Linked DNA regions of Homo sapiens: all the other regions are reported to be linked to region 3. Evidence: microRNA targets listed by miRTarBase, many of them from high-throughput screens and not tested one by one. Region 3 holds a microRNA gene; each other region holds the end of a gene's coding sequence.
Evidence for each region. Region 3 holds the annotated microRNA hsa-miR-885-3p (AGGCAGCGGGGUGUAGUGGAUA, at 1,922-1,943, shown strand). A microRNA usually pairs through its seed, bases 2 to 8, with sites in the 3' UTR of a target mRNA and lowers its output. Matches are read on the target gene's strand: a 7mer-m8 pairs with bases 2 to 8, a 7mer-A1 pairs with bases 2 to 7 and ends in A, and an 8mer does both.

Region 1: miRTarBase lists OTUD5 as a target of hsa-miR-885-3p. Seed matches in the 3' UTR shown: 8mer at 915-922 and 7mer-A1 at 1,573-1,579.
Region 2: the mRNA of XPNPEP2 is a reported target of hsa-miR-885-3p. The part of its 3' UTR that is shown has no 7-base or 8-base seed match.

What each region holds. Positions count from the first base shown.
Region 1 is chrX:48,919,731-48,923,913 of GRCh38, reverse strand. It overlaps OTUD5 (OTU deubiquitinase 5), which reads left to right. Exons shown (of 9, transcript NM_001136157.2): 7 at 1-63; 8 at 168-281; 9 at 619-1,890. The coding sequence ends at 740. Among named protein-coding and RNA genes, the nearest start is that of PIM2, 2.8 kb to the right of the region's middle. RefSeq lists enhancers at 1-411, 1,956-2,840, 3,534-3,593.
Region 2 is chrX:129,767,876-129,772,058 of GRCh38, reverse strand. XPNPEP2 (X-prolyl aminopeptidase 2) reads right to left here. Exons shown (of 21, transcript NM_003399.6): 21 at 2,523-3,768. The coding sequence ends at 3,574. Among named protein-coding and RNA genes, the nearest start is that of SASH3, 10 kb to the left of the region's middle. RefSeq lists an enhancer at 3,154-3,654.
Region 3 is chr3:10,392,259-10,396,441 of GRCh38, reverse strand. It overlaps MIR885 (microRNA 885), which reads left to right and starts at 1,880; the gene lies at 1,880-1,953. All of the region lies in intron 5 of ATP2B2 (ATPase plasma membrane Ca2+ transporting 2), which reads left to right. RefSeq lists an enhancer at 749-1,345.

The DNA.
Region 1 (4,183 bases), not on the chromosome of region 3:
TGAAGCCCCCTTCCCCAGGCACTGTTTTAGCTCTTGCCAAACCTCCTTCGCCCTGTGCGCCAGGTCAGTGACTTGCCCACAGGGAATGTGCTGGGAGTTAGGAGGCACGTCCTGGGTCCTGGGTCCTGGATCCTGGGTCCCTACCTTTGACTGTCCGTCTGCTTCAGGTACAAGCAGTCAGTTCTCGGCAGGGGCCGACCGGGCAACTTCCCCCCTTGTGTCCCTCTACCCTGCTTTGGAGTGCCGGGCCCTCATTCAGCAGATGTCCCCCTCTGCCTTTGGTAAGCCTCCTTTGTCTGGGGGGATGGAGGCTGCTAGGAGCTGGGAGAGACTGGAAGAAGTGGCAAGTCCTGAGAGGGGCTTTCTGGAGCCTCTGGCCATCTCCCCAAGAAAAGAAGGGAGAGGCACTGGAGGGGATTTTTCAGATCCAAGGAATTTGCCCCAGAAGGGTCTGGGGTCTAAGTGGGGTTTCACAGGCCTAGCAGATCCTTCTGTTTTGAGAAAGGAGTGAGAAGGGCCCTATGGGATTTCTCCAGAGCCCCAGATGTCGGCACAGGGTGAGGAGAAGGCAGGCTGAGAGCGCTCCATCATCCTTTTCCTCTTCCTCTCGCCCAGCAGGTCTGAATGACTGGGATGATGATGAGATCCTAGCTTCGGTGCTGGCAGTGTCCCAACAGGAATACCTAGACAGTATGAAGAAAAACAAAGTGCACAGAGACCCGCCCCCAGACAAGAGTTGATGGAGACCCAGGGATTGGACACCATCTCCCAACCCCAGTACTCCTGCTCTCCGGTGCCACCTCACCTTCTTTGGCTTCTTCCCTCTTGCCTCCTTCTGTTCTTTCTGCTCTCCCCTCTTTTCCCTCCTCCTCACTTCCCTCTGGCTAGCCCACCCCTGCACTCTCTCTCATTGCCGCTGCCACTATCACCTGTCTCTCTGCCAGCTGATGTGCCCTGTTGCCCCCCACCCCATCCCGCACAGAACCATCCCTGCATTCCACAGGGGACTCGGGCAAGGGTGCCGAAGATAGACAAGAGGCACACAGAGACAGACCAACTGGCAGCCAGGCAGCCCCAGAGGAGAGAGACATTCAGACAGAGGAAAGTCTCCCTGCCCCTCATTCCTTCCAAGATGAGAAAAACTTGCCGCCACCCCCCGACACTGATGCCAGGGAGGTGGGAGGAAGAAGTGGGAAATTTCCCTTCCCAGTACCCCCAAGAACGTCTGAGCCTTCAATGTTGAATTTTTTCTTTATTAAAATTACTTTTATCTTATAAAATCAACTAATCAAAAATGATATAGACGACAGCACTGGCTCTGTGAAGGTGGCATCTTTCTGGGCAGGCAGGCCATGGGGCATGGAGGAGGGTGCAAAGATATGGGTTGCTGTCTTCTGGCCTCCAGCTGCATGGAGGCCGGCCCAGGGTCTAGGGTGTGCACTGGGCAAGGGCAGGGCGGCAGGTGTCAGGCCGGCTTGGACAATGAAACCCTGACCTTGCTGCATTCCTTTTGCTTCCACCACCACTAGCTTCTTTGGAATCTTGGGGTGGGGGTCATCTTTGGGGATTATGGCTGCCACCCGGGATTTGAGTGTAGGGAGTGTGGGAGCAGCCTTGGCAGATGGGGCACCCGTGCCCTGCAGGTGTTGACAAGATCCGCCATCTGTAATGTCCTTGGCACAATAAAACCAAATGTCAGTTTCCCTGAGCGACTCTGTTCTGTGTGGGGCAGGGGTTGGGCGGGCCTCTGGGCAGAGGATGCAATGGCACGGACCTTGGCTTGACCTCAGAGGTGTGAATGCTCTCCAGCAGGGTCTGTCTGGGGGCCTGGAGTTTGTATTTGATTTGCTGCTTATTAAACCTCCTTCTGGACCTATTGCCACTGGAAAAGCTGCGTCTTTGCCTGCTGACCCCACCCCTGCCTACCCTATTTCCTGGGGGGGGGGGGGTGATGGTAGCAGAGGACTGTGAGCTTGAACTTCCTGCCTGAATTCCAGCTTCTCCGCCTGCCTCTCACCATGAATGCTGCTCTTTCCTTATCATGATCTGATGAAGAAAAGCCTTGGAAAAGTGCAACTGATACTTTGTAGCAACATGAGTTTAGTGGAAGTAACCAGAGGGGCCTCACCCACTAGGTTTTAGAAGGTGAAGGACGGCTAAACCCTTTTTTGTTCTTGTCCCCCAGTCTGACACCTCTTTGCCTGTCCTCCCTAGGGGTAAATCCAAGGTAAAGAAGGCTGGCTGGCCCCCAGGTTTTCTCAAGCAGCTTTTTCACCATGCCATGATAATGGAGACCCTCTGACAGGATGTGTGTCTGGTTCTGCAGTTGAGGGCATGGCTAGCTGAGTGGCTGTCTGCGGAGTGTGTCTGGAACCCAGTGGCCAAGCATCTATTTGTTGTAGAGTTGCTTTGAAACCTTCCTGGCCCTGGTCAATTGCTTCTCTGTTTCAAGTGTCTCATCTGTACAAGAGGTGATTAGGCTGGGTGCAGTGACTCACACCTATAATCCCAGCACTTTGGAAGGCTGAGGTGGGTGAATCACCTGAGATCAGGAGTTCGAGACCAGCCTGGCCAACATGGAGAAACCCCATCTCTACTAAAAATACAAAAATTAGCCGTTCATGGTTGTACGTGCCTGTAATCCCAGCTACTTGGGTGGCTGAGGCATGAGAATCGCTTGAACCCAGGAGGTGGAGGTTGCAGTGAGCCGAGATTGCGCCACCACACTCCAGCCTGGGTGACAGAGCGAGACTCAGTCTTAAAAAAAAAAAAAAAAAGTGATATCTACTCCCTCATGCTTCTGCTGTGATCATCTAGAGGGAATATGTATGATCAAAGTAACGTACTACCTGGGCACAGTGCTTGGCACATTGAGAGAGCACAAATGTTAGTAGTATTCTTTTTGTAGAAGTTTCTGCACCATTTGGCCCCTGCCAATCTCTCGCCGCTCTGTCCAGTGTTCTTGGCCTTTGCCTGCAATTTGCCCTCCCCTGTCCTGAGCCACCAACCTTCTTTGTCTTTCAAGACAGAGGGTCACCTGCTGAGAAGCCCATTCACATTCTCACTTCTATCTAAAAATCTCCCCAGTAGCTGTACTACAGATAAACTTCATGGCACGGGTTTGATGCCTGACTTATCTGTACATCTCTGATACCAACATCCCCATCAAGGCCTGGCAGGCTTATAGCAAACCACCCCCAATAACGTTGGGTGAACAAAGGAGAGTACATGTGTGCTTTTTTGGTGTTGTCTGTGTGTGTGTGACTGTGGTGAGTCCAAGTCTTCATGTGCAGCTCACAGAGTGTCCCCAGTTGTGTGTGTGATGAAGGGCTTGTTTCCAGGTGTGTCAGATGGTGACTGAGTGTGGGACTCTTATCTCTGACAGTTTGTGTCTAAATCCAAGATGCGTGCATGCCTGCGTGGGTCTGTCTGTGACAGTGCATCTGTGGTTTCTGTCTGATGGGGTGGATGTCCGTTTGTGTTCCTGCAACAGATTCTGGGTAGCTATTTCTGGACAGTTTGTTCCATTGATAAACTGCATGTGTCATGGTGTATGTATGTCTGTGTCTGAACAGGTCTATCCATGTCTGTTTTTGTGACACTGCCACAAAATGTGATTCTATCACATCAGTACATGTCTGCCTTCAGAGCAGTGCATGTGTGTCCCTGGAGCATCTGTGCATCTTCCTGTGACAGACTCTGCGTCTCTCATTTCTGGGACAGTACAAGTCTTGCTGTGACAGTGCATATCTGATGGTGACAGTGTGTTTGTGACAAGTTCTGCCAGTGTGACGGGACATTTCTGTGTCATCACATGGCAAATGTAGGTCTGCGTGAGTGCCTTTCTGTAACAGTGTATCTCTGGGTGTCATTCTAGGACATAACTATTTTTCTGACAGTGTGCTTGCCTGAAAGTGTATGTCAGTCTCTGGCTGCATGTGTATCTAGGTCGTTTCTGTGAATGTGTCTGACAGTATGTGTTTGTGTATATCTTGGCATTCATGTGTCTTTGGAGTGCATTTTTCTTCCTGGGGTGTGGCGCCTTTTCTGGCTGTTTTTCACAAATTTGTGTCTGAGAGTTGCCACTTCTCTAGCAGCCTCTATCATGTCTCTCAGTCCTTGCCTCTCTCAACTCCAAGAGCAGCCCCATGCCACCACCACTCTGGGCTCACCCCCATCCCCC
Region 2 (4,183 bases), not on the chromosome of region 3:
GTGTGTGTGTGTGTGTGTGTGTGTGTGTGTGTTTGGTCATGGAGCTCCTATTCAGGATTGGCTCTTGAATTTTGCGGGCCTTGTGCAAAATGAAAATGCCCGGTGCCTCTTGCTTAAAAATTATCAAGAATTTTGAGACAGTGACAGGCGAGCATTAAACCAAGCATGGGGCCCTTGTAAGCACAAAGTCTTGAGGGACTGCACAGGTCCTACACCCGTGAAGCTGGCCCTGCAACTACTTCAAGTACAATTTTACGGGAAGCCCGTCAGGGCTACTTCGTGCAGCAGCTCTGTTTTCCTCGACAGCCCCTGTGGTGTTTCTGAGGCATCTCAGGCTCCCGGGAGCATAGTTGGAAAGACGTAAATTAGATGTTTGCTCTAGAGCCTTTCTAATTTTGGCTATTTATATATAAAACTTGGGTTCCAGACCTTTTTCTTACCTACCTGCAAAGGTGAAGCTGAATTGAACTTGTGCTGGGCAAATAACAGCAATATCATTTCTTGTCTGTGTGGCTTCCTGGTTTAGAGTGCTGCCACATCCGGGTCTCATGAGCCTCTCGCTGTAACCTCACCAAGAAGGCAGCATGGGAGATTCCAGAAAGGATAACTGAAGACCAGGGAGAAGTGACTTGCCCAAGGCCACACAGCTGGCACAAATGGGACTCAAACCCCAGAATCTTAACTCCTAGGAAAAGGGGCTTTTCCACATGGCCGGCTCCCCAGGCAATCAGCAGGCGAGGAGAGGTTTGCTAAGCCCCATCCTCCAACATTAAAACAAAGTACTAGAGCCCAAGGGGACAGTTCCTAACAATCTTTCATTCCTAACGATGTCACAAGAGTCCCTGTGTATCAGCCCTGGTGTATGTGCCCTGTTTCCCTGCCTGACCCAGAGTTAATCCCTTAAAGCAGGAATGGTCAAGTCTGGCCATCTGGGTCCCAGGGGAGGGAAGAGCTGGGGTGACTGTGAGCCCTCGTTCCAGCCACGTTCCAGGGCTGGGTTCTTCCTCCCAGAATGGTAGGCTGGAAGGGGCAGTTAAGGGGATTCAGAGATGAGGTGGAGTCCTGGGTCTCGCACTGAGGAAAAAAGCACGAGCTGCCTCGGTCCGAAAGGCCTGTGTGAGGGTGTTGGTCAGGTGCCTGGTCTTGCCACCCATGACCTGCCAGAACCCCAGGAGCAAGTGTCAGGGTGCAAAGGCAAAGGTCTGGCAGGGTCTGGGGAGGCACTATGGTGTGGATCTGCTTCTCCTGCTTGAGCCTCAGTTTTCTTGTCAGTAAAATGATGAAAGCCATACCACTTGCCCTTTATTTTTCTTTATTTTATTATTATTATTATTTTTTGAGATGGAGTCTCGCTCTGTTGCCCAGGCTGGAGTGCAGTGGCACGATCTCAGCTCACTGCAACCTCCGCCTCCTGGGTTCAAACGATTCTCCTGCATCAGCCTCCCGAGTAGCTGGGACTATAGGTGTGCGCCACCACACCCAGCTAATTTTTGTATTTTCAGTAGAGATGGGGTTTCACCATGTTGCCCAGGCTGCTCTTGAAATCCTGGCCTCATGTGATCCTCCCACCTCGGCCTCCCAAAGTGCTGTGATTACAGGGGTGAGCCACCACACCCGGCCAGGACTTGCCCTTTCTTGAGAGTGGATTCTAGAGTCCTCTGACTGGTTTAAATCTGGCTTTTTTTCATTTACCCAATGAAAAAAGTGACTTTGAGTCACTTGATAAATCTCTATGGGCCTCACTGAGTTCCTGCACTTGTAAAATGGGAATAAGAAAAGGGCCTTCTCAGAGGTTGTGAGGATTAAATGAGAAAATGCATGTAAAGCTTCTTGCACGGTGGCACATAAACACTCAGTAAATGGCAGCCATGATGATGATGATGGTGATGATGATGAGGGTGATGATGACTTTAATTTTATTAGTAGTACCTGTCTTTGTGGGGTGAGCAGGTGAGGGAGCAAATTATTTAGCAAACAGAGGCCCATCTTTGGATACTCAGTAAGGCTTGGTCAGGGCTGGAGCCTCTGGATGCAAGCACTGGTGATGGTAACCATCACAGGTCACCCTCACACTCAGCAGACTAGGCCTGATGGTTTCAGGCCAGGAGACTTCTCTGCCTGGTGCCTTTGCCTGGCACCCTGCACCTTGGTTCTTTCCTTCCACCAACTGTGCGCTGCTTGGCAAAGGTGCCAGCCCCAACTTTTCTGGATTACATTTGACAAGTTCCCCAGTGTAGGGCTCCTTTCTGTCCCTTCCACAAGGTTACAATACCTTTTTAGACAGGCTGGAGGTTGGCTGGTTGGGCGTGGTGTGCACGTGCATCTGTGCACATGCGCACACATATTCATATGCATGCTCACACACATACTCTCAAGCCCACGTGCTCCCCCACTGAGCTTCTAGGAGCCTCATGTCCCCACCCCCACCTCACCCTCTCTTCTTCCTCCCCCACCACAAAAGCCACAGGTGACAGCAGTCTCCGGCAACACAGCAGACACAATGCAAAACCCAGAGGCAAGTGTCTTTGTTAGGCTGTTTTAAACGTCTTAGCAGGATGTGGACCCAGGTGGCTAACGGCCAATTTGGCCGGAGCAAATTCTTCTCACCACAGTGGGTTCAGAGAATGAGGAGAGGGCTGGGAGGTGGGCTCAGGGACTCTGCATGTTGCTGAAGGGTGAAAGAGCTGGAATGCTGGCTCATCTGGCCCCATCAACTCCCAACCAAATTTGTGTGTCCTTAGGCAAAGCCCACCCCCTGTCTGAAGCTCAGTTTTCCTGTCTGTAAAATGGAGAAACCAGACACTGTCCACACAAGGTGAAGGGGCATCCAAGAATGTGGGAGGATTTAACAGCATTGTAGCTGTGGCTGCACTTTGGAAAGTTCAAAGGGCTCCTCGAATGCCAGGGAAGTCTAGAATAGTGACGGGTTCCGGCTGCCCAAGTTTGTTCTCCAACCTCTGGTAGGGTCATATTCCAGAGTGCCTCACCGCATTCCCTCTTACTCCACAGCCAAATTCCTATGGCTTAACTCCCTCTGCTGTTACTTGGCATGGAGCCTACCCAGGGTTTAGGAATGATGGGTTCACATGTGGGGGGTTGATGTTTCATGCCCTGGCTGGGTGGGAACAGCTCTGGCTATGCCCAACAGGTGGTGATAGGTTTGGGCTCTCCCGGGACCATGGCACCCTTGGGTGGTAGGGGCATTGCTCTCTTGGGGTTTTGTTTGGCGGGAGGGGAGCAGCTGTAGCAGTCTGTGCTAGGTTATAGGTTAGGCCTACTGAGATCACAGAAGAGAAGAGACTAGCTGGCTTTCCTATCTCGGGGCCTGGGATTAGGGGCCCAGGGTGTGGTATACAACCCCGGGGTGCAGGGAGGTGCCATCTGGGGCCAAGAAGCCCTGTGTTCCTGGGGCCTGGGACCTTCTCCATAGGTCTTGGAGAAGGAGGATGAATGCAAAGGTTTCTAGGCAATGGGCCAGCAGGGGCTCTTGGGGTATGTTCAGTGCAGGGTGAGGGGAGCTAAGCAAGGGAGCCCCCCATCTAGATGGAGGGTTAACAGGAGAGTCTGGAGCCTCTAGACACTCCAGCCAAGGATGGCAAGGGTGGAGACCACTAACACAGAGGCCCAGGAGGCGGTGTCTGGGGCCCTGGCGGCCAGGGGCTCTGTGTGCTGTTGAAGCCACTCGAACTCCTCTAGTAGCTGGCGCCTCTGCAGCTCTGGACCCACCTTCTCCCGGATGGTCTGGTAGTAGCGATTCAGGTACTGGAGCTGCGAAGGATAGAAGGGGTGACAGCCTCTCTAAGCCAAGCTGCCAAGAGGTGAAGTCTTGGTGACGCCCAGTCCCCTGTTGTGGTACTCCAGCTGTCACCATAGTCCAGATGGCCACAGGTCCCCCACCATCATCAGGCTTCAGGAATTCTCTGGGGCTTTTCAGAGGCAGTTCCCCTGGCTGGCTGTTTCATGTCATGGTGATGTTCATGGGCGGTGGGGTGGGTAGATTTCAGGCCCGGGAATGGGAGTAAGCTGGGCAGGCATTCTTATCCTCAGCTTACAAAAGAGGAGACTGAGGCAAAAGAATAGAAGGGATCACTTATAGTTCCAGGCCTTGTAGTGGCCGAGCTCAGAGGCCCAATCTCAGATTCCTCCAGTTATTCACTACCTGGGGTTGGGCAGGCTGGTCTGA
Region 3 (4,183 bases):
GCACTGTTTCAGCTTAGAAGAGGGCAGGAAACACTCCGCTCTGGTCAGTTGGTCCAACCATGCTTGGCCTGTGACCCTGGACAGGTCCCTTCACCTCTCTGAGCCTCTGTGTCTGTGTCAGTGCAATGGGGAAGCTGGTGAGGCCTCCACTGCCTGCCCCACAGGGCTGTTGTGGGGACCACAGGCATGCACACGTGTGACTGTCCTTTGCAAACAAACCCTGCGGTTGTGAGGTGCTGTATGGTGTGGAAGGAATGTGGCATCTGGAGGCAGAATGCCCAGGTTCCAGCCCTCCAACAGCTCCCACTGTGGCCTCTGCCCCTCAGAACCTCAGTTTCCCCATCTGACAAGTGAGGGCAGACCAGCCTTCAGAAAGACTCAAATGACCTCAACACTCAGGGCACCAAGGAAATCATCAAAACCAGGCAGGTTTCCCCTACCTTCCTACCCTCCAGGGACGGACAGGCAGACACGAGCCCATGTCTGGTGTATCTTCAAACGGGACAGAGTAAAAATATTCAGAAATTGCAAACTCATATGTCTGCAGGGCCAGGTAGGGAGAGCACAGGTGCCAAACCCAAACCACAGCTGCTTCCTGTTGCTGCCTGCAGAAGCGCCAGCCCAATCTGACCTCAGTGCTCACTTTGCAAGAGGAGCCAGAAATCCAGATTTCCCTGTACCAGCTCTCAATGTTTAAGTATTGGCAAGAAATTCCCACATTTTAAGGTCCCTATGGGTCAAGCCACATATGGGTGGGACCTAGAGTGCAAACTCTGACCTAGGCCTATTTTTTAGCTTTGTATTTTAAGATAATTTCAAACTTTCAGAAAAGTTGCAAGGATGGCACAAAGAATACGGGCATGCCCTTCACTCTGATTCGGCTGTTGCTAACCTTTTGCCGTCTTTGCTCTCTGACAAATCTCACTCTCCTCCTCATCATGCAGATGTGATGGCCTTCTCCCGCTAGACACTGCAGGTGTGTCTCCCAAGAGCAAGGGTATTCTCATGCATAACCACAACACAGCCATCAATTCAGGAAACTTGACATTGATTCGGTACTGTTACCTGCTGTGCCATCCATATTCACATTCTGCCAATTGTGCCTGCAGCGTTCTCCAGGCCAGGATCCATGTGGGGTCCTGCATGCCACTTGGATGTCCTGCCTCTTTGGTCTCCTGCATGGAGCAGCGCCTCATCTTTTCATTGTCTTCATGGAAAGCCAGTGTTTTTTAAACCCTCCTAGGTCATGAACTTCCGTGAGAGTTCCACTAAAGCAGTGACCCCTCTTATAAGGAACAGATGCCCAGACTCCTCATCTTGCAACATTTCAGGGGATTCAATGATCCCTAGAGGACCCTGGTCCTATCCCAATTTGCAGCTGGGGAAACTGAGACCCAGAGCAGAAGTGTAAGGCCCCACAGAGGGCAGGGGCAGGGCGGAAGCCAGACCCCAGCTCTGGGCTCTTCCTGTAGCCCCCATGCAGGAGCCTGCCTCCTTGTAGTAACTTCCACTGGGAAATGCAGGACTAGACTAGATGCCATCAATGTGGCAGTGGAAGGGGCTGGAGCCAGGGGGCCAGGATGGCGGGGCTGTCTTCAAAAAACAGCAAGGCCTGGCTCCAGCAGGCCCGATGGCTCAACCCCCGCGAGACCCCGACACACCCTCCTCCCTTCCCCCTGCCAGCCAGAGCACTAACAGCATGAGGTCATGCAGGACATCGGTAAACCCTCTTGGGACTCTGCCCACATCCCAGGACCTGCTGCCCACCCCACCAAGCAGAAGGCCAGGCATGGGAGAGCCGGACCTGCCACCACTGCCACCGTCTCCAGGGAGCCTAGGACGACACCGTGACTGCAGAAGGCCCAGTCTGCTACTCGGCCCGCACTCTCTCCATTACACTACCCTGCCTCTTCTCCATGAGAGGCAGCGGGGTGTAGTGGATAGAGCACGGGTTCAAGTCCCGGCTCCACCACTCACAGCTGTGTGACCCTGGGCCATCACTCAAGCTCTCTGAGCCAGAAAGTGGTGGGTGGAGGGGCTGGGGATTGAACTTGCGCCAAAACCTACCTCAGGGGGCTGTTGTGAGGGGGACACTTTGCCTACTGCCTCGTGCTCTGTGAGCGTGTGTTATTAACTGCATTAATAACAATAATAATGGAAGGACTGTGTCTGGGCTGGGAATCGTTTTGGCTTTGTTTAGTGCTTGTGCCTGGAGGCAGATAATAGCCCCCAGAAATAGCCTCCATCCCTTCTTCACAGCCTCTCCCCACTGAAGGAACCCTTTTAGAAGAGATGAACTCTCCCCTCTCCCTATCCAGGGAGAGGCCTAAAAGGTCACACGCAAGAGATCAAGGAACCCTAGGTCCAGCCCCTACTGTCCTACACCCTCTGCAACTTCAGTCATTCGCCTTATCTGGGCTCAGAAACCCCATTTTGTAAAAGGAGGCTTCCCAGTTCTGCTACCTATGGCTCAGCATACCCCACAAGCCACAGCAGAAGGCTTTGACTCCGAGACTGCCACCATCTAGACCAGCTCAGGGCAAGGGAAAGCCACCTCCTGCTGTTCAGGACAGGCCCAAGGCCAGGATGGGCTTTGAGCCTGCAGCTGGGAAGGTCCTGGCCACTCTCTGCTGCCAGGTCAGAGACCAAGGAACATCCCCTCCACAGGACCAGGACAGGACAGAAGCTTGGGCAGGACAGGACAGACAGTACCATCCACGGAAACCACAGTGTTCCCTGAGCCTGGGCTCCCATTTCCTCCCACTCATGGGATAGCTGGCAGCTCCCCACCACGCTCTGGCCCCCCTTTCTCTCCTTGGGGCTGCCCCAGACAGCTCTCCCACCAACTTTGTCCACAAGGTGGAAAAAGCACAAGATTGGAGCCACAGACCAGCTCCCATCCCAGCTCTGCCTTCCTGGGCTGAATGCAGAGGTGACCCCCTGAGCTGATGCCCTATCTGTGAAATGGGGTGAGGCTGACCACCTCACAGACTGTGACAGCTGAGCGAAAAGTGGCTCAGATGGAACTTGGCACATCATGAATGCTCAAAAGATATTCTCTTCCTTCCTCCCCCTCCACCCAAAAATACTCTCAGCGGCTTCCTATTGAACACCAAGCAAAGACTCCACTCTGTCACCCTCCACTCAGGCACCTTCTCCCTTCGTGGGCGCTGAGCTTTGGCCCGGCCCGCCCGCTACCATCACACTGGACCACCTCCCACCTTTGCCTGGCTGTGTCCCTTCCGGCCCGCCATGTCCTTGGCTTGGTTTTGTCTTGCATTGCTCTGGATCTGTGTGCCTATCTGCTCTCCTTGACCCCAGCTAGACTGTGAGCTCCTGGAGGGCAGGGACCACAGGGGGACCTCTCTCAGACCCGAGAGCCTGGCATGGAGTTGACACCCCACCATGTCTGTCCGTCAAGTGAAGGACTGTGGAGCTGGGGAAGGGGGGCGCCATCTGGTCATTCTGTCCACACGGGCCTCTGCCGGCCTCTCCACACCCTCTTCTTCCCGAGATGTAGCTGTCCACCCTACCCAGGACATGCCCTAGGCTGGTCTCCCTTAGACAGTGTCAAGACACTATTGCTGAGATATGGGGCCTAAGCCAGCTCCCTCCCCACTCTACAGATGACAAAACTGAGGTCCAGAGAGGAGAGGGGCTGGCCCCAAGGTCACATAGCAATCAGAATTAGACACCATGTCCCAGGTGCCCTCTTCTGGGTCCAGGGCTCTCTCTCTACCCCTCCCCGTGCTTGTATTCTGAAGGGCTCTGTGGGCAGTTAGAGGAGGTGGGGGCTACAGAGTGCTGCCCAAGGGACTGTGGACAGTGAGGTCCCACAAGGCCCTATCAGGGCCTCCATCCCCAAGAGGTTCCCACCTCTGCCCCTGTGGTCGTCCTTTGAGAGGTTTAGCCCACTGCGCTTTGACTTGGATGTCTGTTGCTCTGCCATTAATTGCTTCTGCCATGGTGTTAAGCATTGCCCTCTGCAGGGGACTCGTGGAGCTGAAGGGGAACGGTCTAGGGAATGCCCCAGTCCTTTGGAGTCTTCCCCTGGCAGGAGGGCCTGGGAGAGGACAGGGCACAGCCCAGTGAGGTGTGGCAGGAGGGGGCACAGCTGGGATGAATGTGACCCTCTGCAAAACATAAAGATGATTTATTAGGGACATTGGTATTCCCAATTATA